4 separate regions of the Homo sapiens genome follow, and regions 1, 2 and 4 are each linked to region 3. Evidence: fine-mapped expression QTL. A gene starts in region 3. Each other region holds a variant in brackets. All regions are shown on one strand. Distances are from middle to middle.

Region 1 (8,101 bases), 74 kb before region 3:
GCCTGTAATCCCAGCTACTTAGGAGGTTGAGGTGGGAGAAATGCTTGAGCCCAGGAGTTTGAGACCAGCCTGGGCAACACAGCTAGACCCCCTCTCTTAAAAAAAAATAAAAAATAAAAAAGAGTAAAATGGTTAAACAAATCCAGACCAGTATGGAAAAATAGCCAAGTGTTACTGTTAAGAAGAAAAAGCATGCTGGGTGCGGTGGCTCACGCCTGTAATCCTAGCACTCTGGGAGGCCAAGGCGCGTGGATCACCTGAAGTCAGGAGTTTGAGACCTGCCTGGCCAACATGGTGAAACCCCATCTCTACTAAAAACACAAAAAATTAGCCAGGCGTGATGGCAGACACCTGTAATCCCAGCTACTCGGGAGCCTGAGGCAGGAGAATCACTTGAACCCGGGAGGCAGAGGTTGCAGTGAGCCGAGATCATGCCACTGCACTCCAGCCCGGGCAACAAAAGCAAAACTCCATCTCAAAAAAAAAAAAAAAAAAAAAAAAGCCGGGCACAATGGCTCATGCCTGTAATCCCAGCACTTTGGAAGGCTGAGGCGGGCGGATCACGAGGTCAAGAGATAGACACCATGCTGGCCAACATGGTGAAACCCAGTCTCTACTAAAAATACAAAAAATTAGCCGGGCATTGTGGCAGGCGCCTGTTATCCCAGCTACTTGGGAGGCTGAGGCAGGAGAATTGCTTGAACCCGGGAGGCGGAGGTTGCAGTGAGCTGAGATCGCGCCATTGCGCTCCGGCTTTGGCAAAAAGAGCGAAACTCAGTCTCAACAACAAACAAACAAAAAAAAAAAAAAAAAAGAGGAAGAAGAAGAAGCAATTTAGAACCTACCTATGAATATAAATTTATAGTGGATTGCACATGCATAAAAATTCCCTGGAGTAAACAAGAAGTTCATAACAGATGGTACTTACTGGGGGAGGGGATGAGAACTTAATGAATGGGGAACAGGGATGAAGGCGATAATTTTCCCATGGGATTTCCCTAGAGGTTTTGATGTCTTCACCATGAAAATTTATTTATTCAAAAATTGAAATTAAACATGAAAAGCAAATAATATAAAAACATTAAACATCCATATAGGTACACTTGTAAATGCACAGAAAGAGGTCTAGATGGATGCACACCAAATAACTGAGGCTCTCTTTGGGATGTGGGATTGGGAGGCAGATAGGAGTGAGACTTTATGTTTTACTGAAGACTGCTCGGTTAGTAAAATTTTTTCCCAAAAGAATATATTCATATATTACCCTTGTAATTCTAAACAGATGGAGGAAAGCTAGAGAAGAAAACAAAATAACAATTAAAAAATTAAGTGGTAGCAGATTACCACAAATGACTGCAAAACAAAACCCCAAACTCAAGAACCAAGCCAAGACTTCTTGATTCAAAGTTCTGTAGTGCAGAGTTGTTGGTTTTGCCTGCCCAAAATCCATCCTCTCCTTCCAAATACATCAAAACTCACTCTCAGGTCCTGAGCTTCCTGAAGGGCAAATGAAACCTAGAGAGTCATGGGTAATCACATGACCCAAGTGGGGCCAAGCAGAACACTGAAAACACCCTGGTCATAAAGATTGGGTCAGATATGAGCACGTAACCTTAGATGGGCCAATGAAAACTCTTCCCACTTTTTCTTTTTTGGTAGAGGTGGGGTCTCGCTGTGTTGGCCAGGCGGGTCTCCAACTCCTGGCCTCAAGCAATCCTCCCATCTTGGCCTCCTAAAGTGTGGGATTACAGGTGTGAGCCACTGTGCCCGGCCACTCTCCCCATTTTCGCCAGGAAAATGTGTGTGCACAGAAGAGATGCTCTCTTTCCCATGGGCTTCCTAAGTTGGGAGGAGGTAGGCCGGGCATCCTGGGGTCATCCTGCCAACATCAGGGACTCCCTGACCATGAGGCCAACACAGAAGAAAGCGGTGCTCAGAAATGAAGACAAGGAGATTTGTGAAGACGTAATTTGAGTTACTGATCACTCCACCCCTCAGACCCCGAGCCAGCACCTTCATAAATTGAAGACATAATTTGTGAATTATGAAGACATAATTAGCTGAGATCGCGCCACTGCACTCCAGCCTGGGCAACAGAGTGAGACTCTGTCTCAAAAAACAAAAAAACAAAAACAAAAAAAAAAGGAAAGAAAGAAAGGATGGGGTCCCTTGCCTTGAGTCCCAATAAGGCAAGGACTGGGACTGTATAGTCCCTGAATGTGCACTCCTCTCCTAGGCCATGCTGAGCTGGATACAAAAACATGGGACAGAGAAGCAGAACAGGGGGGAGGAGGGTGTTTCCTTGGCCAGAGAAAGAGCTTTGCTTAGGGTGGGGGTGGGCCTGGAAAAAGTGTGGGGTCCCCAGGGACAGAGCCTGGCAGCTGCAAAGCCTCTAGTGCATTTTCTCATCTGGCAGGAGACCAGTCCCCCATCTCTCCAAGCAGGAGCCTGTGGCTGAGGCCGACCAGCTGGCCAGGTCCCTGAGGGCTGGGGAGCCAGGACTTGAGACTCCACCATCTGGCTTCTTGGCCAGGAAGCACAGCTTGGCAACAGGCCCCGAGAGAGGATTCTGGGTCACGTGGCCAGGACCTGGGAGGTGGGGTCCCAGAGAGCCTGCTGCAGCAGCGGGTGTGGTACGGGATGAGGGAGAGGACACAAGGAGGACATGAGGAACACGGGAAGGAGGCAGAGACAGAGAAGTCAAATAAAAAGAGACAGAGAGACTGGGGTGGTGGCTCATGCCTGTAATCCCAGAACTTTGGGAGGCCAAGGTAGGCAGATCACCTGAGGTCAGGAGTTCAAGACCAACCTGGCCAACATGGTGAAACCCCATCTCTACTAAAAATACAAAAATTAGCCGGGCGTGGTGGCTCACGCCTGTAATCACAACTACTTGGGAGGCTGAGGCAGGAGAATCGCTGGAATCCGGGAGGCGGAGGTTGCAGCGAGCTGAGACTGTGCCATTGCACTCCAGCCTGGGTGACAGAGTGAGATTCCGTCTCAAAAAGAAAAAATAAAAATAAAAAAATACAAAAATTAGCCAGGCATGGTGGCGGGTGCCTGTAATCCCAGCTACTGGGGAGGCTGGGGAATCGCTTGAACCTGGGAGGCGGAGATTGCAGTGAGCCAAGATCGCGCCACTGCACTCCAGCCTGGGTGACAGAGTAAGATTCTGTCTCAAAATAAATAAAGAGACAGAGAGAAGGGAGTGAGAGAGTAGGACAGAGAGGGACACAAAGGGAAGAGAGAGACACAGAGATGGCGACGGGAGGACAGGAGAGAGGCTGAGGGGGACAGATCGCTCACACACTGCACACCACTACACCCCTCAGACCCCGAGCCAGTACCTCCCTCAGCCCAGCCTGGCCCCAGTGCCCTAAGGGTGGATGGGACAGCCAGGAAACGTGCCAGGCTGGATGGCAGCCAACCCCTCTCCTGTGTATGCCCCAGGGGACAGCAGGGCCTTGGCAGGTCCCTTCCCCAGTAGCAGCTCCTGAGGGGCAGCTGGGCTCCGTCTGGGTGCCCTGGCCCACACAGTCACTTCCTGCCTCGGGCTCCCTCTGCTGGGAAAAGGGCCCAGGAGTCTCGTGCTGGAGCCTGCCTCTGGCACCCATCACTGTGTGACCCCAGGGCCACTCCCTTGTCTCCTCTGGGCTTCAGCCCCTCCCTTGAACAATGGGGACCCCCATCTCATGGTTTGCTGGGCTTGGTTGAGACTGAACCCCCTACAGGGAGGGAAGAGCTAACTCTGTACTCTGGCTAAAGCAGGAGGCCCCAACTCCTTCCTCTAAAACCTAAATAGTACAAAAGAAGGTCAAAGATGGTCAAGCTCGCCAGTAGCATTGGAAAAAAATACAAATACACACACTGCAGTGAGATACCACTTCCCAGCCATCGGACTGAGAAAGATCTAAAATGTCTGACAAAACCAAGTGTTGGCAAGGACGAGAGGAAACAGGAGCTCATGTGTACTGCTGGGGAGAGAGTGAGCAGCCACAGAAGGACCTGGGCAGGCAATTTGGCAAAAGCAAGTGAGCTAAAGATGGTTCTAACTTTTAACACTATATAAATATTTCATTTACCACCTCCAAATTACTTTTCTTTTTTTTTTTTTTTTTTTTTTTTTTGAGATGGGGGTCTCACTCTGTCGACCAGATTGGAGTGCAGTGACACGATCACAGCTCACTGCAGCTTCAACCTCCTGGGCTCAAGTGATCCTCCCACTTCAGCCTTCTGAGTAGCTGGGAACACAGGCATGTGAATCTCGCTATGTTGCCCAGGCTGGTCTGGAACACCTGGGCTCAAGCGATCCTCCTGCCTTGGCCTCACAAAGTGCTGGGATTACAGGCATGAGCCACTGTGCCCAATCATCCATGTTGCTTTTTTAAAATGTGTTTTGGGGCCAGGTGCAGTGGCTCACGCGAATAATCCCAGCACTTTGAGGGGCTAAGGCAGGAGGACTGTTTGAGCCCAGGAGTTTGTGACCAGCCTGGGTAACATAGTGAGACCCCATCTATCAAAAAATAAAAATAAATTAAAATTAAAAAGCAGCATGGAGAGGGGTAAATGCCCCAAATGGAATATGAACAAAAA[C/A]AAATGAAGTAACCGTGTATCACATAAGTAACAACCAAAGGGAAGGTGAAACAACTAGCTTTTGAAAACAGTAGAGTGATGGTGATATGCTCTCAGTTTTATGACAGTTAAAATTAAAGACTGGCCAGGCACGGTGGTTCATGCCTATTATCCCAGCACTTTGGGAGGCCGAGGCGGGCGGATCACTTGAGGTCAGGAGTTTGGGACCAGCCTGGACAACATGGCGAAACCCCATCTCTACTAAAAATACAAAAATTAGCCGGGTATGGTGGCGGGTGCCTATAGTCCCAGCTACTCGGGAGGCTGAGGCAGGAGAATCACTTGAACCCAGGAGGCAGAGGGTTGCAGTGAGCCGAGATTGTGCCACTGCGCTCCAGCCTGGGTGACAAGAACAAAACTTGGTCTAAAAAAAAAAAAATTAAAGACCTGTGAATAAATACTGAATCTTAGATTTGTTGGGTCAGCAGTTCTGAAACCACTTAATGCATTATGTCTTTTCACCTTCACAATGTCCTTATGAGGTCAGAAATATCATTATGCCCATTTTACTGAAGAAGAAAATGAGGCACAGCCAGGCGCGGTGGCTCATGCCTGTAATCCCAGCACTTTGGGAGGCGGAGGTGGGTGGATCACTTGAGGTCAGGAGTTTGAGACCAGCCTGGCCAACATGGTGAAACCCCGTCTCTACTAAAAATACAAAAATTAGCCAGGCGTGGTGGCAGGTGCCTGTAATCCCAGCTACTCAGGAGGACGCTGAGGCAGGAGAATCACTTGAAGCCAGGAGGCGGAGGTTGCAGTGAGCCGAGGTCCTGCCACTGCACTCCAGCCTGGGCAACAGAGTGAGACTCCCTCTTAAAAAAAGAAAAAGAAACTGAAGCATGGAGAGAAAAGTAACCTCCTTGGGCTATCCAGGTGATAAGGCACAGAGCCAGGGCTTGACCCAGGCAGCCCAGCGCCAGCATCCATGCCCTTCACTGAGATGCTCTGCTGCTTCCCACACTCCTGCTATCCACCAGGGGGTGAGCATTGAGGTCCTTCCCATTGCAAGGAGAAGGCATCCAAGGCTCAGAGGGAGAGACGAAGGCAGCAAGTGGGAGAGCTGTGACTCAGAACCAGACCTGCTGGAGTCCCAAGTCTGTGCCTTCAGCCACTGCAAAACACTGCTGGGGAAGAATTAGTAATCACTGCAAGATAATTATGAATCCTAGCAATAGGCTGGGGCAGTGGCTCACGCCTGTGATCCCAGCACTTTGGGAGGCCGAGGTGGATGGATGCTTCAGCCCGGGATCTTGAGACCCATAGTCCAAGCTTCTTCACCCTGCCCTGTGCAGGACTGACCTGCATGGACCAGCCCTCCTGTCCTCTGGCTTCCATGTGGGTTGGCCTCAAACATGGCTTATACTTTTCAGTGCAAAATGAAAACACAAGGTCCCTTGTTCAAATATTTATTAAGAATTTTATCCAGGGGCAGTGCTTCACCCCTGTAATCCCAGCACTTTGGGAGACTAACGTAGGAGGATCACTTGAGGCCAGGAGTTTGAGACCAGCCTGGGCAACACAGTGAGGCCCCCGTCTCTATAAAATACTACAAAAATTATCTGGGCGTGGTGGCACACGCTTGTAGTCCCAGCTACTCAGGAGGCTGAGGTGACAGGTTCACTTGAGTCCAGGAGTTCAAGGCTGCAGTGAGCCATGATCACGCCATTGCACTTCAGCCTGGGTGACAGAGGTAGAAACTGCCTCAAAAACAAAAAAATTCAAGACATCAATAGTAGGGCATTAAACCAAGCATGGAGCCCTGTGTCACTGCACGGGCAAACACCCATGAAGCCAGCCCTGGCTGACAAAGGGAAGCCCAGAGGAAAGTGAGTCTGGGGTATTATCTCCCCAGCTCTTCCCTGCTATGGTGCCATGGTCTGGCTGCCGTTCTTTCTTTCTTTCTCTTTTTTTTTTTTTTTGAGACAGAGTCTCACTCTGTCACCCAGGCTGGAGTGCAGTGAGGTGCAATCTTGCCTCACTGCAACCTCCGCCTCTCAAGTTCAAGCGATTCTCATGCCCCAGCCTCCCGAGTAGCTGGGATTACAGGCATGTGCCACCACGTTCGGCTAATTTTTGTATTTTTAGTAGAGACGGGGTTTTGCCATGTTGCCCAGGTTGGTCTTGAATTCCTGATCTCAAGTGAACCACCCGCCTTGGCCTCCCAAAGTGCTGGGATTACAGGCGTGAGCCACTGCGTCTGGCCATGGCTGCCGTTCTTGACTAAGAGTGCCAGCTCCTGTCTGGCAACTCTCCCCTTCCAAGTTCCAATAACTTTTCCTTCTCTACCTTCTCTGGCTAGGGAGGAGCAAAAGCTCCCCTCCATGAGTCCCACAGCCCTATATGCTTCCTGCAGCTTCCCCGTTCTCCACTCACACCTTTGTCAAGAAACTCAAGTTTTCTGCAGGTGAGCCTGCTTCTGTTTCTGGCTGGGACCCTGACAGTCAGATGCCCCTTTCTTGCAGGCTTACCACATCCTGGGCACTGTGCTAAGTGGCTCCTTTCTGTGCACATCCCCACCTGGCCCTGGGAGACCTGCACTGATGATAGAGTCCTATTTAAGAGGGAGGACAGAGGCTCAGGGAGGGACTAAAGGTGGTATTGAATAGCCACTTGGTAGCCATGTGACCTCTGTGAGCCACAGATCCTTTCTGTGCTGTGGTTTTCTGCTGGGTGGGGATAATAACAGGACCTCCCTCATGGGGCTGTTGGGGAGGAGAGAGGAGTTAACAGTGCCCAGCACATTGTGTACATCAGCAGTTCTCAAACTGTGGCCAAGGAACCCCTGGGGGATCCCTGAGATCTTTTCAAGGCATCTGCAAGGTTACAACTATTTTTATAAAAATACTAAGATGTTATTTGCCTTCACCATTCTCATTCTCTCTCCAGCATGCAGCAGTGTTTTTCAGAGACCTGATGACCTGTGCTAGTGAAATGGATTGAATACAGACACGGATGGGAGAAGCTAGCTCTCTTCTATTCTAGACATGAAAGAGAACTACAGTCTGGATGCCATGGCTCATGCCTGTAATCCCAGCACTTTGGGAGGCCAAGGCAGGCCGATCACCTGAGGCCACGAGTTCGAGACCAGCCTGGGCAACATGCTGAAACCCCATCTCTACTAAAAATACAAAAATTAGCCAGGCTTGGTGGCACAGGCCTGTAATCCCAGCTACTCCAGAGACTGAGGCAGGAGAACTGCTTGAACCCAGGAGGCAGAGGCTGCAGTGAGCTGAGATCAAGCCACTGCACTCCAGCCTAGGTGGCAGAGCCAGACTCCGTTTTAGTTTTTTTTTTTAGTTCAATAAATAGAGATAAAGACTGGCCAACATAGTGAGATTCTGTTTCTTAAAAAAAAAATCAATCAGGCATGGTGGTGTGGGTCCGTAGTCCCAGCTACTTGCGGGACTGAGGGAGGAGCATCACTTGAGCCCCAGAGGTTGAGGCTGCAGTGAGCCGTGATTGCACCACT
Region 2 (8,101 bases), 85 kb before region 3:
GTCCCCAGGTAGAGCTCTGTTTTCTTTTCTTTTTTCTTTTTTTTTGGAGACAGGGTCTTGCTCTGTTGCTCAGGCTGGAGTGCAGTGGTGTGATCACAACTCACTGCAGCCTCCACCTCCCATGCTCAAGCAATCCTCCCATTGCAGCCTCCCAAGTGGGACCACAGGCACGTGACTCTACACCTGGCTAACTTTTTGATTTCTTTGTAGAGATGAGGTCTCACTATGTTCCCTCTGTTCTCAAACTCCTGGGCTCAAACGATCCTCCTGCCTCAGCCTCCCAGTGTTGAGATTACAGGTGTGAGCCACTACACCTGGCCAGGACTCTGTTTTCTGCAAGTCTTGGGTTCAGAAAGCCCTGCATTTCAGCATGCAGGGAAAGCTCCGCTTCCCTAAATGGATAAGCTCACCTCTATCCAGCCTCACCCAGTTTCCTTTCTTTTTTTTTCTTTTCTTTTTTTTTTTTTTTTTTTGAGACGGAGTCTTGCTCTGTCACCAGGCTGGAGTGCAGTGGCGCGATCTCGGCTCACTGCAACCTCTGCCACCCAGGTTCAAGCCATTCTCCTGCCTCAGCCTCCCCAGTAGCTAGGACTACAGGCACGTGCCACCATGCCCAGCTAATTTTTTATTTTTAGTAGAGACAGGGTTTCACCATGTTGGCCAAGCTGGTCTCCAACTCCTGACCTCAAGTGATCCGCCCACCTCGGCAGCCTCACCCGGTTTCTATCTCAGTCTCACGCCCCTCCTATCCAGGAACCTCGGTGGGACTCTGGACTCCCAGGTTGGGTCCCCAGCCAATGCATCCCACCTCTAGCCCCAATCTCTGAGCCCACTTGGACAGAGGTCTCTCTCTGTACCTCCTTACAGATTCCATCCCTGGTCCAGGCCTGGAGCTCAGCATCCGCCTACACGAGGCAACATCACCCCACTGCACCAGGAGGTCTCCAGCCCCACCGCCATAGCCAATCTCAGCACAGGCTTTTCTGTCCTCCCAGACACTGAGTAGAAAGAGCCCCTTGCCTGTCCTGAGTAAATTCTTCTCTACCCCAGTCCTAGACATCGCCTACTCTTTTCTCCCCCGACAAGGTCCCCACTACTACACTCAAATCCAGGTGCTCCTGGCCCCACCCTCTCAACCATCCCTGAGCCGTGTCCCCCCATTCCGGCCCGCCCACTTGCCAAATTCGAGGGCTCCAGCACACAGCAAGGAGGACCTCTCCCACCCAACGTCCAATTCCAGCGCTGCGCCAACTCCCAACAGCGAAGCTTCAGGTCCTGCTGGACCATTCCTGTGAACTGGCCACGCGCCCGCCCACCTGTCCGGGTGCCCCATCTCCAGCAGCGCCCGGCACTGGCGCGACAGCTGCGCGATGCTTTCCTCGTAGTTCTCCACGCCTTGCTCCAGCTGCAGGTGTTTCTTGAGCAGCTGCAGGGTGCTCTGTTCGTCCTGGGGGCACAAAGCGCCCACGATGAGGCGGCAGCGGCGGCCCCCGGCTCCAGCGCCCCCAGGCCCTCCGCACCCCCAGCTCGGGCGCACCTTGCCCTTGTCCTCACTCATCATGAGCAGCTCCTGCTCGCCCAGCCACGCCTCCACCTCAGCCACGTCGAAGTAGTACTGCTCCACCTGGAAGGCGGCGTCCAGCACCTGCTGCCGTCGCTCGGCAGCCTCCCGCAGTCCGGCCCAGGCGCTCTGCAGCTGCTCCAGGCCCCGGCGCACTGCCTCTGCCTCCGGGCTGCGCAGCGACGCCAGCGCGCCCGCGCGCTCCAGCACCTCCTCCAGGCGCGGCCCATGCGCCTGGATCTCCCGCCGCAGGCCCTGGGGGCAGGAGGTAAGGGGATGTGGGTGGAGAGGGGGCGTTCCGAGGCCCTGCAAGACCACACGCTCCTCTGCTACTGGCACGGCCCACGGGGCAATTAACAAGCACCCCCAGCTCGCTAACCACGTGCCAAGACCATGTAAACATTTTGCTGATACTCCCTCACTCATCATAACCCTATGCTTGCTGCAGGTGGGAAAACAGGCACAGAGGGGCGAAGTACGGCGCCCAAGAACAAGCAGCCAGTAAGGAGTGACAGGATTTGAACACAGGAGGCTGGTTCCAGAGACTGTGCTCTGAGCCAAGCCGCTTGCCGACCCAAGATGGGCCCTAATACAGAAACCCTGCAGCTTAGCAGCCGAGGTATCATTTGTATACGGTAGAGTGCACAAATCTTAGGTATACAGTTGCACACATTTGTACAGACACATACACCGGTGTGCCCAGATCAGCGTGCGGAACACTTCCATCCCCCAGAAGGTTCCCTCAACCAGCTCTGTACTTGCAGAGTACCTTATTTAACGTTTTGTGTGCCTTAACCTTATTTACTTACAGAGTACCTTATTTAACTTTTTGTGAGTCTTTTTTAACTTTTTGTGTGCCTTAACGTTATTTAACTTTTTGTGTGACTCAACTGATAAAGATAATAACAGCCAGCAAGTCCTCTCCTTATTTTGCTTTTTTAGAGACAGGGTGTCACTCTATCACCCAGGATGGAATGCAGCAGCTTTAAACTCCTGGGCTCAAGTGATCCTCCTGCCTCAGCCTCCCAAGCGGCTGGGACTACAGGTGTGCACCACCATGCCCTGCTATTTTAAAAAATATTTTTGGAGAGACGAGGTCTTGCTATGTTACTCAGGCTGGTCTTGAAGTCCTGGCCTCAAGCGATCCTCCTACCTTGGCCTCCCAAAGTGCTAGGCTTATAAGCATGAGCCACTGTGCCCGGCCAGCCAACGATTCTTGAGTGTCTGCTACCCTGCTACCTGCCAGGTGCTTTGCTAAGTAAGAGCTTTACATAATATAGCCTCACACCTCCTCACTCCCAACCTATGGAGCCAGACAACATTACCATCTCCATTTTACAGATGAGAAGACTGAGGCACAGAGAGGGTGAGGAATTTGCTAAGGTCACACAGCTAGTATCAGGCTGAGATAATCTACCTTGCGGGGTTGTTATAAGGTGATAAACTATGGAGCACTTGGAACTGAGTCTGCATGCACCAAATGCATCATATTTGCAGCTATTTTTGGCTTAACAGCCCCTGTGTATCCAGCACTCTCACTGCACACACAGCTGAGCTCCCCCAATTTTAAGTACTAAGTGCACTTGATCAGTTTCCTCAACCATGACAACGATAAGCCAGTTCTGTCGCCCACACTGTTGACAGCCAAGAGTATTTTCATCAAGACAGGAAAACAAAATCTCAGCAAAACTCCAGTCTCTTAAATAACTCTACCTACTGCAGAATGATCAGGAAGCTTCCAAAATAATCTGTAGACCCACCTCCCCACCATCCTTCAGTGCCCTATTCTTCCAACATACATTGTTTGGTGAAATGAGGATAATGACAATATCTACCTCATAGGGTTATAGAGGGGATTAAATTAAATAATCAGCATAAACCCTAAGACAGTACTTAGCACACAGTAAATCTTTTTTTTTTTTTAATCTTTTTTTTTTTTTTTTTTTGAGACGGAGTCTCGCTCTTGACACTCAGGCTGTATTGCAATGGTGCAATCTTGGCTCACTGCAACCTCCGCCTCCTAGGTTCAAGCGATTCTCCTGCCCCAGCCTCCCGAGTAGCTGGGATTACAGGCGCCCGACACCTCGCCCGGCTAATTTTTTGTGTTTTTAGTAGAGACGCGGTTTCACCGTGTTAGCCAGGATGGTCTCGATCTCCTGACCTCGTGATCCACTCGCCTCGGCCTCCCAAAGTGCTGGGATTACAGGCGTGAGCCACCGCACCTGGCCTTAATTTTTTGCATTTTTAGTAGAGACAGGGTTTCACCATGTTGGTCAGGCTGGTCTCGAACTCCTGACCTCAGGTGATCCACCCACCTCAGCCTCCCAAAGTGCTGGGATTACAGGCATGAGCCACTGCACCCAGCCAGCACTTAGTAAATCTTTAATCGATGTTTTTTTTTTTTTTTTGAGACAGGGTCTCACTCTGTCACCCAGGCTGGAGTACAGTGGTGTGATCTTGGCTCACTGCAACCTCTGCCTCCTGGGTTCAAGCAATTCTCCTGCCTCAGCCTCCCAGGTAGCTGGGATTACAGGCACCTTCTACTATGCTCAGCTAATTTTTGTATTTCTGGTAGAGACGGGGTTTCCCCATGTTGCCCAGGCTGGTCTCAAACTCCTGGGCTCAAGTGATCATCCTGCCTTGGCCTCCCAGAGTGCTGGGATTACAGGCATGAGCCACCACACCTGGCACAATGCCTTATTATTATTATTCCTCTTTTATGTCTTGCTTTAGGCTTTGGTGAAATAGTTGCTTTGACCAAGGGGTTCCCTTCGTATGCAGTTTGAGAACCACTGCTCTAAACCAACTCTACTTTAGATGTGGAAACTGAGCCCCAGAGGAATGAACAGATTCAGAGATTTTTTAGGAGCTCAAAGGCCCCCTCCCCCACCTTGCTCAGGTTAGGGGGCAGTAGTATCCTCTTGCTGATTATCTCTGTCCTTTGTCCCTATGGGTGTTTTTGTTTGTTTGTTTTGGGGGACGTGTGTGTGTGTGTGTGTGTGAGAGAGAGAGAGA[GAT/T]AGGGTCTCATTCTGTTGCACAGGGTGGAGTGCAGTGGGGTGTTCAAGGCTCACTGCAGCTTTGACCTCTGGACTCAAGGGACCCTCCCTCCCCAGCCTCCAGAGTAGCTGGGACTACAGGGGTACACCATCACACCAGGCTAACTCGATGTTTTGTGATTTTGTTTGTTGTTGTTTTACTTTTTCCTTGTCCAATAGCTATTCCCCTTCCTTCTAGTCTCAAGCCCCTGATTTTCCTTTGGGAAACCCCCTTTGCCTCCATCTCAGCCTTGGTAATTAAGCTAAGGCTGATTCCAGCAGCAGGTTCCAGGGGAGGGCGCTTAACCAGGCCAGCCCAAGGAGCAGTCCGAAACCCCATCCATCATGATTAGTTCAGGGATGGGCGTGGGATGCCATGGGCATGGTGAGCCAATGAGAGTTATTCCTGAGACTACTGCTGACATTATTGAGGTGGGAAATTCTCTTCAGTTTTGCTGGTGGGAGGTAAACCTGAATCCACTGGAGGCCTTTTATCACCAGGAGAGGAGGACTGGCCTAAGAAGAAAGCTCATGCAGAAAAACAAACAGGCCGGGCGCGGTGGCTCACACCTGTAATCTCAGCACTTTGGGAGGCTGAGGCGAGTGGATCACTTGAGGCCAGGAGTTCGAGCCCAGCCTGGCCAACCTGGTGAAACACCCCACCCCCCGCCGTCCATCTCTACTAAAAATACAAAAATTAGCCAGGTGTGGTGGTGCACACATGTAATCCCAGCTACTTGGATGGCTGAGGCAGGAGAATCGCTTGAACTCAGGAAGTGGAGGTTGCAGTGAGCAAAGATTGTGCCACTAAACTCCAGCCTGGGCAACAAAGCAAGGCTCCATCTCAAAAAAAAAAAAAAAATAGAGCCAAGAGTCATGAAAATATATGGAAGCACCTGGATACATCTGTATCTGCTGTCCACAGTCTTGTTAATTCCAAAAGCCAATACATTCATTGTTTTGGCTTTAACCACCTTCAGCTGTTTCTATCACATGTATCCAAATGTCCTAACTCGCTCCCTCACCTGGCTCTGCTCACCTGGTTCTTTTTGATGTGCTGCTGGACCGCCTGCAAACCGTTGCCTCGCTCTGTCTGCATGGCCAGTGGCAGCCGCTCCTGAACCCATGCCTGGAGAGGACACAGGAAGCAGGTCAAGGGGAGAATGCATCCAAGAACCCCTGCATCGCAACTAAACTTTAAACCTGCACGGCATCCCAGGCCCTTCCTTGCCTAAGAGCCCAGTTGAATATTCAGCCTCCTCCATTTTTTGTTTTTTTTTTTTCTTTGAGATGGGATCGAATCCCCAGGCTCAAATAATCCTCCTACCTCAGCCTCCCATGTAGCTGGGACAACAGGCACCACCACACCTGTCTCAGTCTCCTCTGTTGACATACTCTTTCTTGCTGTCTGCACTTAAGCCAGGCTCACACCGTTGGCCTTTGCACATACAGGTCTTGTTTCCTATCATATTCCTAACCACCCTGAATTGTCACTGTCTGGGGACAAGTCTGTTTTCCCCGTTGGACTCTGAACCCTCTGGGGCACAATGGGGTCTGCCTTGGCCACCCCTGTGGCCCCACTATCATCCAAACACAGGGCTGGGGCTAGAATGATCAACTGAGTGAACAAATGAATGAGCAAATCAGGAAATTGAGTGATGGAATGAGGAACAGAGGAGTGAATGAATGAATAGTTAAGTAAATAAATGAGTGGAGGAAAGAACAAACTATGGATGAGTGAATAAATAAATGAGTGACTTCATGAATAAATCAACGAATGATTCAAAGTGAGTAAATGAGTGTGAATGAATGAATGAGTGAACGGCTGAATGCGTCTTTCAGCGTATGAGTGGGAGGGTCTCAGCCGTCTCCATCTTCAGCCCCGCCCCATGCCCACCTTCTCCGCCCCACCGCCCCGCCCCGCCCCGCCCCAGGCCCCTGCGCTGGCCTCACCAGCTCGTCGTCCAGGTCGTGCGCCACCTGGTGCAACTCCTTGGAAGCCAGCAGCAAGCGGCGGCGCTCCTGCAACGGCTCGAGCAGGCGCACCAGGCGCTCGCCCACCGCGTTCTGCCGCTCACCCACCAGCTCCTTGCTCGCCGGCTCCAGCGGCAGCGCCGCCGTCTGCGCCTGCAGCTCTCCCACCTCGCGGTACCACTCCTCCACCTGCGACTCCATGGACTGTGGGGACAGAGGCAGGGTCAATGGGCCCCACCCGCCCTCCTGATCCTGCTGTGGCTCTCCAGTACCCTTATGGTGACAGCCAGACCCCTCACCGCGGCCCACCCTTCCACCCTCTCCTTGTTCAGTCCCCTCCAGGAGCGATGCGCTCCGCATGAACCTGCATCACACTAAGCTAGTCCCTGCCTCGGAGCCTTTGCCTTTGCTGTTTCCTCTGCCAGGCATGCTCTTCCTTGTCAATCAGATTTCAGCTGGAGTATTACCTTCTCAAAGAGGCTTACCTGACCCCGGAACTAAAGTGGTCCATTAATTCACTAATTCCCAGAACAACCTTCAAGATTGGTAGTCTCCCTGTTTTACAGAGGAGGAAACCAAGGCCAAGAGAAGTTAAAGAATTTGTCCAAAGAGTCAACTTTCCAAAATTATTACCATCAAATATAGTAATAATTTTTTGTTAACGCTTTTTTTTTTTTTGAGATGGAGTCTCGCTCTGTTGCCCAGGCTGGAGTGCAATGGCGTAATCTTGGCTCACTGCAACCTTCACCTCCTGGCTTCAAGTGATTCTCCCGCCTCAGCCTCCTGAGTAGCTGGGATTACAGGCACCTGCCATCATGCCCGGCTAATTTTTGTATTTTTGTAGAGATGGGGTTTCACCATATTGGCCAGGCTGGTCTTGAACTCCTGACCTCAGGATGAACAAATCAGCCTGGGTGCTGTGTCATCCAGGCTGGAGTGCAGTGGGCAACCTCAGCTCACTGCAACCTCCACCTCCCAGGTTCAAGTGATTCTTGTGCCTTGACCTCCCAAGTAGCTGGGACTACAGGCACCTGACACCATGCCTTGCTAATTTTTTTTGTATTTTTAGTAGAGATGGGGTTTCACCATGTTGGTCAGGCTGGTCTCAAACTCATAACCTCAAGTGATCTGCCCATCTTGGCCTCCCAAAGTGCTGGGATTACCGGATAAAAAAATTTGATAGTAAGAAATTATCAAAAATAAATACAAAGCTATAGTAATTTGGATGGCTGCTGTGTCTTAGGAATAGACAGAAAGTGCAAAAGCAGACCCAAATACACAGGAAAATTCATGTGTTTCATAGGTGCCAATTCAAATCCCCAAGGGAAAGATGGATTATTTAATGAATGGTCATGGGCCAATGGCTAACCAATTTAGCTGGATCCTTTCCTTGCTGTTTGTACTGAAAACAATTCCAGATGGATTAAAGACCTAAACAGAGTAAGTAAATCCATAAGGCACTAAAAGAAAACCTGGGCAAATGCTTTTATAATGTTGGGATGGAGAAAAATCTTTCCAAGCATAAAAAACA
Region 3 (8,101 bases):
ATATTTGCATTAATGGGGCTGGGCACAGTGGGTCCTGCCTGTAATCCCAGCACTTTGGGAGGCCGAGGCAGGCGGATCACGAGGTGAGGAGTTCGAGACCAGCCTGGCCAACATGGTGAAACCCGGTCTCTACTGAAAATACAAAAATTAGCTGGGTGTGGTTTCGGGCTACTGTAATCTCAGCTACTCAGGAGGCTGAGGGAGGAGAATCGTTTGAACCCAGGAGGCGCAGGTTGCAATGAGCTGAGATTGTGCCACTGCACTCTATCCTGGGCGACAGAGTAAGACTCATTCTCAAGAAAAAAAGAAGAAGAAGAAGAAGAAAAATTTAAAGTGGAGGGGGCAGGCACAGTGGCTCATACCTGTAATCCCAGCACTTTGGGAGGCCAAGGCAGGCAGATCGCTTGAGGTCAGGAGTTCAAGACCAGCCCGGCCAACATGGTGAAACCCCATCTCTACTAAAAATACAAAAATGAGCTGGGCATGGTAGTGCATGCCTGCAATCCCAGCTACTCAGGAGGCTGAGGCAGGAGAATCGCTTGAACCTGGGAAGGCAGAGGTTGCAGTGAGCCAAGATGGCACCACTGCACTCCGGCTTGGGCAACAGGGCGAGACACCATCTCAAACAAAAATAAAAAAATAAAAATAGGCCGGGCACGGTGGCTCATGCCTGTTATCCTGGCACTTAGGGAGGCCAAGGCGGGTGGATTGCCTGAGCTCAGGGGTTCGAGACCAGTCTGGGCAACTTGGTGAAACTCCATCTCTACTAAAATACAAGAAATTAGCCAGGCATGGCATTGTGCACCTATAATCCCAGCTACTCAGGAGACTGAGACAGTAGAATCGCTTGAACCTGGGAGACAGAGGTTGCAGTGAGCTGAGATCGTGCCACTGCACTCCAGCCTGGGCGACAGAGTGAGACCCCATCTCAGAAAAAATAAAATTAAATTAAATGAAAATAAAAAAATAGAAAACAAAAAATTATTTAAAAAAAGAAGAAATTGGCCGGGCACAGTGGCTCACACCTGTAATCCCAGCACTTTGGGAGGCCAAGGTGGGTGAATCACCTGAGGTCAGGAGTTCCAGACCAGCCTGGCCAACATGGTGAAACCCCGCCTCTACTAAAAATATAAAAACTAGCCGGGTATGGTGGTACATGCCTGTAATCCCAGCTACTCAGGAGGCTGAGACAGGAGAATTGCTTGAACCCAGGAGGCGGAGGTCGCAGTGAGCCGAGATCGCACCACTGCACTCTAGCCTGGGTGAGAGAGTGAGACTCCATCTCAAAAAAAACAAAAAAAAAGAGAAGAAATTTAAAGGGTTAAGTGACATTAGATGTATCTCCTTTACCTTCTGGGCCCCCAGGCCTGATTCTAAGACTAACGGCTGGGCGTGGTGGCTCACACCTGTAATCCTAGCACTTTGGGAGTCTGAGGCGGGTGGATCACGAGGTCAGGAGTTCAAGACCAGCCTGGCCAACATGGTGAAACCCCATCTCTACTAAAAACACAAAAATTAGGTGGGCAAGGTTGCAGGTGCCTGTAATCCCAGCTACTCAGGAGGCTGAGGCAGGAGAATTGCTTGAAACCGGGAGGCGAAGGTTGTAGTGAGCCGAGATTGTGCCACTAAACTCTAGCCTGGGCGACAGAGTAAGACTCCTTCTCAAAAGAAAAAGGAAAAAAAAAAGACTAACAAAGGAGGAAGTTGGGAGATCAATGTCCTCAAAAGACCCAGACAATTGCCAACCCACTGAATTCTAGGAAGGCAGGGTCTAAGTCTTGGTCAGTAGAGTGAGTAGAGTGGAAATTGTCCCTTAGGGGGACACATTGAAATCTTTTTTTTTTTTCTGAGACAAGGTATTGCTCTATCACCCAGGCTAGAGTGCAGTGACACAATCATAGCTCCCTGTAGCCTCCAACTCTTGTGCTCACGCGATCCTCCCACCTCAGCCTCCTGAGTAGATGGGACTAGAGGCAAGCTCCACCATGACCAGGTAATTTTTGTATTTTTTGTAGAGAGGGGGTCTCACTATGTTGCTCAGGCTGGTCTCAAACATCTGGGCTCAAGCTATTTGCCCACTTCAACTTCCCAAAGTGCTGGGGTTACACATGTGAGCCACTGTGCCCAGTCCCAAATCCATTTTTGTTCTTCCCTCCTTCCATGGAAAAGTGAAAGTGAGCACACAGCTACCTACCACCTGTGTGACCTTGGCTGAAATACTTCCACTCTTTGGGCCTTAGTTTGTTCATCTGCAAAATAGTAATGATGGCCCGGCACGGTGGCTCATGCTTATAATCTCAGCACTTTGGGAGGTCAAGGTAGGTGGATCACTTGAGGCCAGGAATTCGAGACCGGCCTGGCCAACATGGCAAAACCCGGTCTTTACTAAAAAAAATACAAAAATTAGCCAGGCGTGGTGGCACGTGTCTGTAGTCCCAGTTACTTGGGAGGCTGAGGCAGGAGAATCGCTTGAACCTGGGGGATGGAGGTTGCAGTGAGCTGAGATTGACTCACTGCACTCCAGCCTGAATGACAGAATGAAACTCTGTCACACACACACAAAAGGGTAGGCCAGGCGGTGGCTCACGCCTATAATCCCAGCACTTTGAGAGGCCAAGGAGGTGGGTGGGTCACCTGAGGTCAAGAGTTGGAGACCAGCCTTACCAACATAGTGAAACCCCATGTCTACTAAAAATTCAAAATTAGCCAGGCATGGTAGCTCATGCCCGTAATCCCAGCTACTTGGGAGGCTGAGGCAGGAGAACTGCTTGAAGTCGGGAGGCAGAGGTTGCAGTGAGCCAAGATCGCGCCATTACACTCCAACTTGGGTGACAAGAGTGAAACTCCGTCTCAAAAAAAAAAAAAAGTAATGATAATCGTACCCGTTTCTTAGCGGTGTTTGAAGAGGTAAGTTATTAATGCAGGGATCATGGTATCTGGTACACTGCAAGCCCTTGATACATGTTCCTTGCTATTATTCTTCATCTTTTCCTCACACATCTCAGCAAATCGATTTGCCTCTTCTGGAGTCAGACAGAAATGAGTTCAAGTTCCGCTTTATTCTTGCTGTATCTTTAACCGAGTATCTTTAACTTGGCCTTTCTGTGCCTCAGTTTCCCTCCCTGTTAAACGGTGGTTACAGCTGTTTTCTTCAGTGGAAGACACTTAGAGATGGGGAGGCCCTTAGCACTCCTGTTAGCCCTCTGGCCAGGCCGAGGATCAGCTCTGGCCATAACGCGATTGAATGGGAAGGAAGGGAGCAGGTAATAGGGAAGCCGGGAAGGGGTGTCCTGCGAGCCTCCCCCCAACACCCCCCCCCCCCCGCAAAGGCTGGTGGGGCGCTGGGCTGCGGTGGCATCAGAGGCTTTAACCCTTCCCAGGCCGCGCCTCTCTCCCTGCGGTCCAGACACTGCGCCCAAGGAGGGGGCCTGGGAAGGACAAGGCCTGGGGGTAAGACCCACGCGTGGCGCGGAAGCTAGACCGGGTGGGGGGGTTGTGGGCTCGTCCTGCCCTCGACCCTTTGCCTCCCTCCAGCCGGGGAGACCCGGGGCTCCAGCCATGCCCCGTGCGCGCGGAGGAGGGATGCTCGCCAGGTGGGGACATACTTGGGGGAGGGGCTGTCGGCCCCCCTAGCAGCTCACCTGGGCCCGCGGCCGCCAGCGTCGCTGTCTCCGCTGCTCGCCGCGACCGACCGCCCTCCCTGTCGGCGTCCGCTGCCCGGCCCGGCCCGGCCCGGCCCAGCCCGGCTCAGCTCGGCCCCGCCGGCCCGCGGCTCAGCCAGATCCGCATGCGCCGCCGCGCCTCCCTCTCTCGCGCCGCCGCCGCGCTCAGCGCGCCCCCGGGACCCCCTCCCGCCCGCGGTCCCCGCGCCCCGCCGCCCGAGGCCCACGCGCAGTCACACCCGGCCGCGGCGTGGGGTGCACGGCTGCACTCGCGAGGGCACGGCGGCGTCACGCGCTGCACACTCCCACGGGGTCACGCTCGCCACGCTGCCATACTCGCGGGGGCCTCGGCGCACAAACTCACCCCCGCATCCACGCGCTTGCGCGCCGTCACTCCCTCCTGTGGGGTCTCACGGGGTCACACCCTCACGCCGTCACACGCGGCGTCCACACTGGAACGGTGTCACCCACCACCACACAAATCCAATAGGGTAACCACCGCCCACGCGGCGTCACACACAAATGCACCTGTCACACACAGCCGCACACTCCCCGGCAGTCACAAACAGTGTCATAGGCCCACACATCACGCACAGCTTCACAGCCACAGTGTCACACACTCTACACACTCGAACCTTCATAGCAGTCGCCCCGCACATGCTGCACCGCCGCACCTCACACATCATAGTCACAGGGGGTCACAATGAGCAGCTCAACACAGACACCCACAGCCACACACTCGAATGGGGTCCCGGTGTCACACATCCTTACACGAGACATGTGGTGTCACACACTGTCACAGTCTAATTAGTCTCACGCTTCCATGTAGCACACCTCACACGTCCCACACCCTATCGTACAGGCTGACGCAGTGTCACCCACGGTGTCACCACAAGGTCACAAAAGAACAGAATCAATGCCTGCCACACGTGGTGTCACGCACGTGTAGTCACACTGTAACACGGGATCACACTCAGAGGATGACACAAGGTGTCACCCACAGTCCTGCTTGCCCTCCGGGTCACTGAGTCACACAGGGTCATATAAGTGCATAGGTACGCCGTGACACAGTGTCTTACATCCAAGTGCACACACACACTCTGTCCTCCTAACTTTCTCCCCTTGCTGGTTCTGGGAGGCCCTGGGGCTTAGAGTGCGCCCCAGATCCGCTCCAGGCTCCGGGAGAGGGGGCGTGAGCTACGAGAGGCCGTGGGTGAGGCTCGCCTGGCCCCGCCCCTCTCCGGGAGGTGGAGCGCGGAGGCAGGGCGCTGAGTGACAAGTTATCTCGGCTCCGTCCACTCTATTTGTTGCTATGTGGAGGCGTGGCCTTCTGTGGCCCCGCCTTCCAGTCTAAGTGGCGCGCAGAGAGGGCGGTGCTGGACGGTGAGCGAATGCAAGCTGACGCCTGCCCCGCCCATCCGCGTTAGGCCCCGCCCCTTGACCTGAGCCGCGGGCGGAGAGTCTGAGGCGTGGCCCTTCGAGCCAGCTCCGCCCCGTTGTTCCTGGCTTGAGTAGGGCAGAGAGCACCGCCCAGCAGCCAGTGGGTTCCCGCGCGTGCCGAGACTCTGAGGCCTTGCACCCCCACGATCCCGTACGATGGCCGTCAAGAAGATCGCGATCTTCGGCGCCACTGGCCAGACCGGGCTCACCACCCTGGCGCAGGCGGTGCAAGCAGGCATGAGCCGGGGCGGGCGGGGCATGTCACGGGACAGACGGGCAGAACTTTAGGAAGGGGCACCATGGGGTCGGGCCGAGGCTGATTGGGGCCATGAGCGCCCCAGCCAGGTGTATGAGGACTCAGGGGCCAAAGCAAGTGGCCACGGGGGCAGAAATGGGGAAAGATGTGAGATCCAAGTTTATGTGAGTCCAAGCCAGAGAGGAATTGGCCCCGGGAGCCCCGGGAGGACTCCACTGGCACAGTCGTGTGTAAGTCCAGGGCTCTTATGCAATGCGGTTGTCATTATTGTGGTTGTGGTGGTGGTTGTTCGCACTCCCAGAGAGGATTTACTAAGCCAAGCTTGCTCTGTCGTCTCTTCACATGAGAGCTTTCAAAATGGGGTGGGAACTAGTATCACCCTACTTGACAGATGAGAAAACTGAGACCCAGAGAGTGACTTGCCCAATATCACACAGCTGTTAACTGACAGGACTGGGATTTGAACTCAGCTCATGCTCTTAACCACCACAAGTCCCCAGGCTGGAAACTGAAAAAGTTGGGGGGTCAGGTTGCTGCGAGTACCTAATGGGAAGGAGTCACAGAGAGACATGAGTGAAGACTTGGGGACAGCAGTCCTGGGAAAGTCAATGAGGGCTGAAAATTTGGAGTTGCCCCAGGAGAGAGGGCAGAAAAGGGGATAACCATCCCCCAGCACTCCCTGCCCCCACAGCCCAGACTTGACCAACTCCCAGCTGGGCCTGGGACTTCCAGATATGGGGCCCCACCCTTGCAGGCCTTGGGGACGCTGAAGATATTGACTATCTGCGTGCCCCAAAAGGGTGGAGGCCAACAGGACCCCACTCTGCTGTCTCCCTTGGAGGGACTCTGAAAGTTCTTCTCTAGGTCCATAACTCTCCCCTTCCCCAGGGAGACCACGTGAGGATCTTGACTTGTGGAGAATGGGGAGCTGTGGGCCTCTCAGTAAAAACCAGTTTGCTGATAAGCATTTATTCGGGAGTAATGGAGAAGGAAGTAAGAGAGAGAAGTTGAGAGGCGCTGAGTCACCTGGAAATCCACTAATTCCACCGAATTCCACTCGCCCACCCTGCTGGTCATAGCTGGGACTGCACTCAGAGGGTTAAGAACTGGAGCCTAGGGAGCTTCAGAGCTGTGGCTCTGAAAAATCTCTTCCCAGCTCTCAGCTTTGCTGTCCCCCTCAGCAAAGGGAAGGGCTGGCCAGGCACGGTGGATCATGCCTATAATCCCAGCACTTTGGGAGGCCAAGGCGGGAGGATGGCTTGAGGCCAGGAGTTTGAGACTAGCCTGGGCAACGTAGCAAGACCCCATCTCTACAAAAATACAAAAAAAAAATAAATTAGCTGGGCGTGGTGATGCATGCCTGTAGTCCCAGCTACTCAGAAGGCTCAGGTGGGAGGATTGCTTGAGCTCAGGAGTTCAAGGCTACAGTGAGCTGTGTTTGCACCACTGCACTCCAGCCTGGGTGACAGGGTGAGACCCTGTCTCTCAAATTTAAAAAAATACATAAAAAGAAAGAAAAAGAGGCTGGGTGCGGTGGCTCACGCCTGTAATCTCAGCACTTTGGGAGGCTGAGGCAGGTGGATCACGAGGTCAGGAGTTCGAGACCAGCCTGGCCAATATAGTGAAACCCCGTCTCTACTAAAAATACGAAAAATTAGCCGGGCATGGTGGCTGGTGCCTGTAATCGCAGTTACTTGGCAGACTGAGGCAGGAGAATAGCTTGAATCCGGGAGGCAGAGGTTGTGGTGAGCCGAGATTACGCCACTGCATTCCAGCCTGGGCGACAAGAGTGAAACTCTGTCTCAAAAAAAAAAAAATTAGCTGGGCACAGTGGTACGTGCCTGTAATTCCAGGTACTTGGGAGGCTGAGGCACAAGAATCGCTTGAACCTGGGAGGTTGCAGTGAGCTAAGATTGCATCACTGCACCACTGCACTCCAGCCTGGGTGACACAGCAAGATGAAAGGAAAGAAGGAAGGAAGAAAAGGAGGGAGGGATGGAGGGAGGGAGGGAGGGAAGGAAAGAAGGGAGGGAAGGAGGGAGGGAGGGAGGGAGGGAGGGAGAAGGGGCTTGGATTAACTGGAGTTCACAATGGTTCTGTAGGGCCAAGAGTCTTAACAGGCATGAACTCTGGTGCCAGCCTGCCCACATTCAAGTCACCAGCTCTGCGGCTTACAGCCTTTGTGACCAAATGCCTTGTCATCTGTGTACCTAGATATGTGTAAGATCATGACAAAACTGGTAGTACTTGCCCTAGGGCTCTTGGGATAATTAAATGAGATCTTATATAGGAGGTACTTAGACTAGCATTGAATTTTGCAGTCTCTGGATCAGACTTACTTAGGTAAAAATTCAACCTTCTCTACCTACTAGCTGTGTGATCCTGGCCCGGTTGCCTAAAATTGCCTCAGTTTCCCCATCAATGTGGACAGGATAATGATACCTACCTTGCAGGGTTGTTGCAACCTGATGCTTCTCAAACTGTGAGTTACAATGAGATCTGAAACATATGGTCACAACGTGTATCAACAATATAGGGTAACAAATGATGACATAGTATCAAAATGTATCACATGTTAAGTATTAGTTTTGTGAAACTCATTTTAATTATATATGTATGCGTTTGTGTACACCAGGTTAGGCAATGAAATTTTTTGTATTGATGGCTGATTTTTTTTTTTTTTTTTTTTTTTTTTTGAGACAAGAGTCTCACTCTGCCGCCCAGGCTGGAGTGCAGTGGCACA
Region 4 (8,101 bases), 550 kb after region 3:
GCAATGAATATTTTTTTGATTTTTTTTTTTTTGAGACAAGGTCTTGCCCTGTTGCCCAGGCTGAAGTGCAGTGGTGTGATTATAGCTCACTTCAACCTCAAACTCCTGGGCTCAAGCAATCCTCCAGCCTTGGCCTTCCAAGTAGCTGGGACTACAGTCTCATGCCACTATACTGGGCTAAGTATTTTTATTTTTAGTAGAGATAAGGTCTTGCTATGTTGCCCAGGCTAGTCTCGAACTCCTGGTCTCAAGTGATCCTCCCACCTTGGCCTCCCAAAGTTCTGGGATTAGAGGCGTAAGCCCCTGTATCTGACCTGAAATAAATATTCTTGTACCTCCCTGATTTTGTGAGTGTGCAGGTAGATCTCTGCGATTAATAATCAGTTGGTGAAAGGAGGTGTTCTTCAGCCCTGGAGGGGTTGAGCACAAGTTCAGGCGGACTTCAGATCCCTTGAAATTATATACAGAATTTTATACCTCTCTCTGAAAACTACTTTTTATTTTTTTTGAGACGGAGTCTCGCTCTGTTGCCCAGGCTGGAGTACAGTGACGTGATCTCGGCTCACTGCAACCTCCGCCTCCTGGGTTCAAACGATTCTCCTGCCTCAGCTTCCCGAGTAGCTGGGACTACAGGCACATGCCACCACGCCCGGCTAATTTTTTGTATTTTTAGTAGAGCTGGGGTTTCATTGTGTTAGCCAGGATGGTCTTGATCTCCTGACCTTGTGATCCGCCCAACTCGGCTTCCCAAAGTGTTGGGATTACAGGCATGAGCCACCGCACCCGGCCTTTCATTTTTTTTTCCGTCAGATCCTCACAGAGGTCAGTGACTTGACAAAGGTGCAGAGCTACTGTCAGAATCATAGTAGGATACTCACAAGACATTGTTAGGAGAGGAGTTAATGAAATAGTGACTTCAGCATGGTCTTTTTTTTTTTAAGTGTAAATATATCTAAAGGTAGGAAAAAACTCAACAGGATCTATACATTTGTATGTGTCTGCCTACAGGGTGATTTTCTTTTCTCATTTTTGCTCCTGTGCATTTTCAGTTTTCTGTAATGAACGAATATTATTTGTGTCATTTAAAAATGGAGATTGGCTGGGCATGGTAGCTTACGCCTGTGATCCCAGTACTTTGGGAGGCTGAAGCTGGAAGATTACTTGAGCCCAGAAATTTGAGACCAGCCTGGGCAACATAGGGAGACCCTATCTCTACCAAAAAAAAAAAAAAAAAATAGCTGGGTGTGGTGGCGCCTGCCTATGGTCCCAGCTACTTGGGAGGCTGAGGCAGGAAGATGGCTTGAGCCCAGGAGGTCGAGGCTGCAGTGAGCTATGATGCTGCCACTACACTCCAGGCTGGGTGACAGAGCAAAACTGTCTCAAAAAAATACATAAATAAAAAAATAGAAAAATTAAAATGGAGATCACTGGACTTAGGGGAGAAACAGATTTGAGCAGCCATGCTGGACTGAGAGCTCTGAGCATGGGGCCATGGCCTGTCTCCATCACTGCAGTGTCTAAAGCACCAGCTGGCACAGAGCAGGCCACACAGTGGGACTCACAGAAGCTTTGCTGGGAGCCGGAATGAGTGAATGCTCTGTCTTCCTTCTGGGCCATTGCTCATGCTGTCCTCTCTCCTGTTGCTCCTTTTATCATATTCCATCCTCTTGGCTAAGACTTCTCCACTTCAAGTCTCAGCTCTGGCACAGCTCAGAGAATGTGTAAGGAAAGAGTAAGAAAGAGATGCCCAGGCTGGGTGCGGTGGCTCACACCTATAATCCCAGCACTTTGGGAGGCCGAGGTGGGAGGATTGCTTGAGCCATGAGCTCCAGACCAGCCTGGACAACATAGTGAGACCCCCATATCTAATTTAAAAAATTTTTTTATTAATTAAAAAAAAAAAAGGCTGGGTACGGTGGCTCATGCCTGTAATCCCAGCACTTTGGGAGGCTGAGCAGGGGTGGGCAGATCACTTGAGGTCAGGAGTTCAAGACCAGTCTGGCCAACATGGTGAAACCCTATCTCTACTAAAAATACAAAAATTAGCTGGACGTGGTAGCAGGCACCTGTAATCCCAGGTGGGAGAATCACTTGAACCTGGGAGACAGAGGTTGCAGTGAACCGAGATCGTGCCAATGCAGCCCAGCCTTGGTGACAGAGCAAGATTCCATCTCAAAAAAAAGATGCCCCAGGGCACAGAGAGACATAGTTCTTATCTCCTGGTTCTTAGTCAGACTTCAGGCTTCTCCAGAGCCTGGGAGGCTTATAAACAACACAACCTCGTCTCTGTGTTCTGGAGGCTGGAAGTCCAAGATGAGGTCACCAGCACTGCCAGGTTCAGGTGAGGGTGCTCTTCCAGGTTGCAGATGGCCTACTTCTCCTTGTATCCTCACACGGTGGAAAGCGGATCTGAGAGCTCTCTGAGGCCTCTGTCATAAGGGCACTAATCCCATTCATGAGGGTGCCACCCTCATGACCTAATCACCTCCCAAAGGCCTCCCCCCACTCTTAATACCATCATGTTGGGTGTTAAGATTTCAACATCCCTGACCAGCAAGGTTAGATCTGGCCATTTTTCTAGGTTTTCACAGCCTCCTATCTCCCCACTATCCCAGCTCTGAACCCTCAGCCTGTACCTCCCCTATCCCATCCTTGACCCCTCTGCCTGGGCCTTTCTGATCCTGGCCTTGACTTTTCTGCCTGTGCTTCTCCCATCTCTGCCCTGACCCCTCTGAGCTCTCACTGTCTGGTGATGTGTCTGTTTCTCCCAATGGACTGGGAGCCCCATGAGGGTAGGGCTTGGGGCTGTCTCCGCCACCTTCGTATTCCCAGGATCTCCCAGCTCAAGGCCAGGCACAGAGTGAGTGCCCAGTGAATGTTTATTAAATGCAGCAGTGACTTAATTCACTTAGTGAGTGCCTGGGATTCTACCAGGCCCTGTTCTATGCACTGGGGATAAAGCAGTGATCAAAGCAGACCCAAACCCTTGTCTTTGTGGAGCTGCCATTCTGATGGAGTAAGACAGATGATAAACATGGTCAATTTGTGAATTATATTTCAGAAGGCCAGATGCTATAGAAAAAAAAGGAAAGCAGGGAAGGAGGCTATGGAATAGGGAGAGGCTGCCTTTTTTTTTTTTTTAGACAGAGTCTCACTCTGTTTGGCACGATCTTGGCTCACTGCAGCCTCCACCTCCTGGGTTAAAGCAATTCTCCTGCCCCAGCCAACTGAGTAGCTGGGATTACAGGCGTGCCCCACCACACCCAGCTAATTTTTTTATTTTTAGTAGAGACAGGGTTTCACCATGTTGACCAGGCTGGTCTCAAACTCCTGACATAAAGTGATCCACCCGCCTCAGCCTTCCAAAGTGCTGGGATTACAGGTGTGAGTCACTGCGCCCGGCCCAAGGCTGCCATTTAAAAAGGGGTGTAGGCTGGGTCCCATGGGTCATGCCTGTAATTCTAGCACTTTGGGAGGCTGAGGCAGGAGGATTGCTTGAGGCCAGGAGTTGAGATCAGCCTGGGCAACATAGCAAGACCTCATCTCTATAAAACAAAACAAAACAAACAAACCATAAAATAAAATCATAAAATAGGGCAGTCAGGGAAGGCTTGAGTCAGTGACGTTTGAGCACATACTCTTTTTCTATATTCTCCTATTTAAAACTTTTAATTAAAAAGTACTTTAATGAGGGCTGGAGGCCAGATGGCACAGGGGCCTGACCACCTCCTCTTCACCCACTCTGCAGGTTGACAACCAGCGCTCGCGCCTGCCAGTCTCCCTGAGTGAGGGTCGCCTGCGTGTGTACCAGAGCGGACCACGGGCCGTGGTGGAGCTGGTCTTTGGGCTGGTGGTCACTTATGACTGGGACTGCCAGCTGGCACTCAGCCTGCCTGCACGCTTCCAAGACCAGGTGTGCGGGCTGTGTGGCAACTATAATGGTGACCCAGCAGACGACTTCCTCACGCCTGACGGGGCTCTGGCTCCTGACGCTGTGGAGTTCGCAAGTAGCTGGAAGCTGGATGATGGGGACTACCTGTGTGAGGATGGCTGCCAGAACAACTGTCCCGCCTGCACCCCAGGCCAGGCCCAACACTATGAGGGCGACCGACTCTGTGGCATGCTGACCAAGCTCGATGGCCCCTTCGCTGTCTGCCATGACACCCTGGACCCCAGGCCCTTCCTGGAGCAGTGTGTATATGACCTGTGTGTGGTCGGTGGGGAGCGGCTCAGCCTGTGCCGTGGCCTCAGCGCCTATGCCCAGGCCTGTCTGGAGCTTGGCATCTCGGTTGGGGACTGGAGATCACCAGCCAACTGCCGTGAGTGATGCCCTGGGTGGGGGCTGGGAGCATACAGTGAGGGGCAGGAGATCCCTAGC[A/G]TCTGCTTAATATCTGAGAAGTTATTATGGTTCAGCCTGGTGCTGGGCAATGCCAGGGGCCTAGTGATGGCCAAGACAGCCAGCTCTGTCCACAATGAGCCTAAGGTTGGAGAGACGTTTCACTAGACATTGACAGTCTGGAGGGGTCCAGGCAGGATGGGGAGGCCCACTCGGATGGGTTGGGGCCAGGATGGGAGAGAGACAGGCAGATGAGTCAGGGCTGGGATTGCGGGGGACACAGGCAGAGGGGTTGGGGCCAGGATGGAGGAAGTCAGTGGGGCTATGGGAAACCAGAGGAGGTTCCTGGCCCAGCCTGGGGAGCAGGGGTGGTCAGGGAGGGTTTTCTAGAGAAAGATGTCCAATTTGAAACCCATAAGAGGGGCTGGAAGTTGCCAAGAGAAAGAGGAGGAAGTGAGTTGCAGGCCCAGAGAACAGCATGCTCAAAGGCTTGGCAGGACGGGAATTCTTGTCTGCAGAATCCCAACACAGAGACGTGACGTCTCTTCCTTTGCCTATAGCCCTCCCATGACTCCCATTGCCCTCTAGATAAAGTCCAGGCTCTTTAGCCAGGTGTCCGTCTGCTTAATCGTTCACTCATTCATTCCACAAGCATTCCTTGAACCCCTGCCTGCCCCCTGTGCATGCTAATGATATTGAAGACACAGTGAAGACCAGCATAAATCTATTCCTGCCCTTGTGAGTGAGGCTCCTAGAGACATGTCCCAGAGGCAGAAAGGACAGGTAGGAGGGAGGAAGAGGCATCCAGGCCCAGGCCCAGAGGGAGGGGGAGTAAGTACAGGGCAGACATAGAGGCCACTAGGTGTTTGTCTTGGCCAGTTCTGTGTCCCCACTGCCCAGTAAGCACCCCCCCAACCCCATGCCTGGCGCAAAATAGGAATCAGAGAGTTCATTTATTCTCCCTTTCACTTCTGCAGTATTTCCTGAGCACCTGCTGCGTACCAGGCCCTGTCCTTGGTGCTGGGGACTCAGCAGTGATTGAGACAGATCAGGTCCCCACTCCCGCAGAACTTCTCTCTTAGCGGCAGGGGAGGGACACAGACAGTGAGCAGATGAACTAGGAAGTATCTTCAGAGAGGCAAAGAAACAAGTTCATTCAATGACAGTGACTGTGAGGCTCGTGAAGAGGGTGATCAGGGAAGGCCTTTCTGGGCAGGTAACATTGGAGCTGAGACCAGGGTCAGGCAATGGAGTCAGCTAAGTACTAACTAACAGTGATGTCCACAGAATGTTTCCCCATAGATCAACTCATTTAATCCTCACAACAACCCTGTGAGGTCTCGACTACATTATCCCATCTTACTGATGGGGAAACTGAGGCACGGGGAGATTGGAGTCAGTGGCCGAGAAGGAGAGATCTGGGATCTGAACCCAGGCCACCTGGGCCCCAGTGGGCTTTCTGGGGAAAGGGAAGGCAGAGGGAACAGCCAATGCAAAGGCCCTGAGGTGGGAGGGTGAGGACCCGGGAGGAGGAGGCAGCTGGGGCTGGGGCAGAGTGAGCCCGAGGGAGAGGGAGAAGAGGTGAGGGCTGAGAGGTGAGAGGAACAGATGGCACAGGGCCTCCTGAGGCATGGGGAGGACTCTGGCGTTTACCCTGAGTGAGAGGAAGCCACAGTAGTGCTCTGAGATGGGGAGGGACCTGATCTGACCCAGATGTTCCCAGATTCCTCGGCCTGGTGTGAGGAACAGGCTGTGGGGGCAGGAGGGAGCCCAGGCAGGAGGCTGCTGCGGTGGATAGGATCAGAGGCAGATTCTGTAACTGGGTGGATTTTTTTTTTTTTTTTTGAGACAAAGTCTTGCTCTGCGCCCGGGCTGGAGTGCAGTAGTGTGGTCTCAGCTCACTGCAACCTCCGCCTTCCGGGTTCAAGCGATTCTCCTGCCTCAGCCTCTTGAGTAGCTCGGATTACAGGCCTGCGCCACCACTCCCGGCCAATCTGGGTAGATTTTGAATATGGAGCTCACAGGACTTGCTGACAGATTGGTTGTCCAGTGAGCGTTAGGGGGTTGGCGGGGTGGAGATTAACTGCGTCGCTGGGGTGTGGCGCAGGAGCACCCAGAAGAATGGCAGTGCCATTATCTGAGATGGCGAGCTCTGAGAGAGGAGCAGGGTTTGGGGATGGAATTCCTGGGCGCCGTCCCCGACAGGGCGCTCTTCGACGGCCCCTGCTACGCGGGCCTGATCCACCCTCTCTGATCTCCCCGCAGCCCTGTCCTGCCCTGCCAACAGCCGCTATGAGCTCTGCGGCCCTGCTTGCCCGACCTCCTGCAACGGGGCTGCGGCGCCGTCCAACTGCTCCGGGCGCCCCTGCGTGGAGGGCTGCGTGTGCCTCCCAGGCTTCGTGGCCAGCGGCGGCGCCTGCGTGCCGGCCTCGTCGTGTGGCTGCACCTTCCAGGGTCTCCAGCTCGCTCCGGGCCAGGAAGTGTGGGCGGACGAGTTGTGCCAAAGGCGCTGCACCTGCAACGGCGCCACCCATCAGGTCACCTGCCGCGACAAGCAGAGCTGCCCGGCGGGTGAGCGCTGCAGCGTCCAGAACGGCCTCCTGGGCTGCTACCCCGATCGCTTCGGGACCTGCCAGGGGTCCGGGGACCCACACTATGTGAGCTTCGACGGCCGGCGCTTCGACTTCATGGGCACCTGCACGTACCTGCTGGTCGGCTCATGCGGCCAGAACGCAGCGCTGCCTGCCTTCCGGGTGCTGGTGGAAAACGAGCATCGGGGCAGCCAGACTGTGAGCTACACGCGCGCCGTGCGGGTGGAGGCCCGCGGGGTGAAGGTGGCCGTGCGCCGGGAGTACCCCGGGCAAGTGCTGGTGAGCGACGTGGCGCCCAGGGCTGGGTGACGGAGCAGGAAATACCCTCTGAAGACTTGGAGTTCTGGATGGGCCTGAGGGTGGGGGAGGCCTGTTAGAAGATTTTATTTTTTTCGTTTTCCTTTTTCCTTTTTGTGCAGAACGGAGTCGCACTAAGTTGCCCAGGCCGGTCTCCAACTCCTGGGCTCAAGTGACCCTCCCGCCTCAGCTTCCTGAAGTGCTAGGAAGTGAGCTATGATCGTGCCACTCCATTCTGGCCTGGGTGACAGAGTGAGACCCCTGTCTCTATTTTAAAAAGGAAGCTAGTGGCTGGGCACCGTGGCTCACGCCTGTAATCCCAGCATTTTGGGAGGCTGAGGCGAGTGGATCATCTGAGGTTTGAGACCATCCTGGCCAACATGGTGAAACCCCCTCTCTACTAAAAATAGAAAAAAAAATTAGCCAGGTGCAGTGGCTCACACCTGTAATCCCAGCTACTAGGGAGGCTGAGAGAGAATCGCTTGAACCCAGGAGGCAGAGGTTGTAGTGAGCCAAGATTGTGCCACTGCACTCCAGCCTGGGCAACAGAGTGAGACCCTGTCCAAAAAAAAAAAGAAAAGAAAGCTAGTATGGTTGCAGCAGCCTGAGTGAGAGGGACAGTGAGAAGAGGTGAGGCGAGGGAGGTAATGGGGAGATAGACAGATCATGTAGGTTTTGAAGGCCATGGGTGAGGGATTTGGATTTAAGCTGGTGCTTTAGGAATGAAGAGGGGTGAATGGTGAGCCAGGCAGAGGGAACAGCAAGTGCAAAGGCCTCGAGGTGGGACTGAGCGTAATATGTCCAAGAGAATAGCAAGGAGGTCAGGGTAGCTGGAGGTGAGTGAATTGAAGGGTGGGCCACAGAACTGTGAATACCC

Which allele goes with the higher level. Alleles are on the strand shown, and positions count from the first base shown. SD is a standard deviation of normalised expression in the study named. Not every link is listed here.
For the expression in prefrontal cortex of the gene that starts at base 3,946 in region 3, allele GAT in region 2 goes with a higher level than allele T (moderate effect, 0.45 SD a copy in ROSMAP).

The links. PIP is the estimated chance that this variant, and not a neighbour inherited with it, causes the effect. A credible set is the group of variants that fine-mapping cannot tell apart.
Region 1: its variant is the best candidate, but not a certain one, in a credible set for the expression of SPTBN4 in pancreas (GTEx, PIP 0.78).
Region 2: its variant is the best candidate, but not a certain one, in a credible set for the expression of SPTBN4 in prefrontal cortex (ROSMAP, PIP 0.63).
Region 4: its variant is the best candidate, but not a certain one, in a credible set for the expression of SPTBN4 in pancreas (GTEx, PIP 0.84).

The regions. Positions count from the first base shown.
Region 1 is chr19:40,536,841-40,544,941 of GRCh38, reverse strand. The region is part of intron 20 of SPTBN4 (spectrin beta, non-erythrocytic 4); the gene reads right to left. Among named protein-coding and RNA genes, the nearest start is that of SHKBP1, 36 kb to the left of the region's middle. The variant C/A (reference allele first, on the strand shown) is at 4,594.
Region 2 is chr19:40,547,862-40,555,962 of GRCh38, reverse strand. It overlaps SPTBN4 (spectrin beta, non-erythrocytic 4), which reads right to left. Exons shown (of 36, transcript NM_020971.3): 21 at 6,550-6,774; 22 at 5,636-5,725; 23 at 1,538-1,816; 24 at 1,317-1,447. Among named protein-coding and RNA genes, the nearest start is that of SHKBP1, 25 kb to the left of the region's middle. The variant GAT/T (reference allele first, on the strand shown) is at 4,577.
Region 3 is chr19:40,462,846-40,470,946 of GRCh38, reverse strand. It overlaps SPTBN4 (spectrin beta, non-erythrocytic 4), which reads right to left and starts at 3,946. Exons shown (of 36, transcript NM_020971.3): 1 at 3,642-3,946. BLVRB (biliverdin reductase B) reads left to right here and starts at 5,202. Exons shown (of 5, transcript NM_000713.3): 1 at 5,202-5,337. The coding sequence starts at 5,259. RefSeq lists a silencer at 4,788-4,987 and an enhancer at 6,009-6,128.
Region 4 is chr19:39,914,290-39,922,390 of GRCh38, reverse strand. FCGBP (Fc gamma binding protein) reads left to right here. Exons shown (of 36, transcript NM_003890.3): 4 at 3,749-4,319; 5 at 6,602-7,206. Among named protein-coding and RNA genes, the nearest start is that of FCGBP, 16 kb to the left of the region's middle. The variant A/G (reference allele first, on the strand shown) is at 4,379.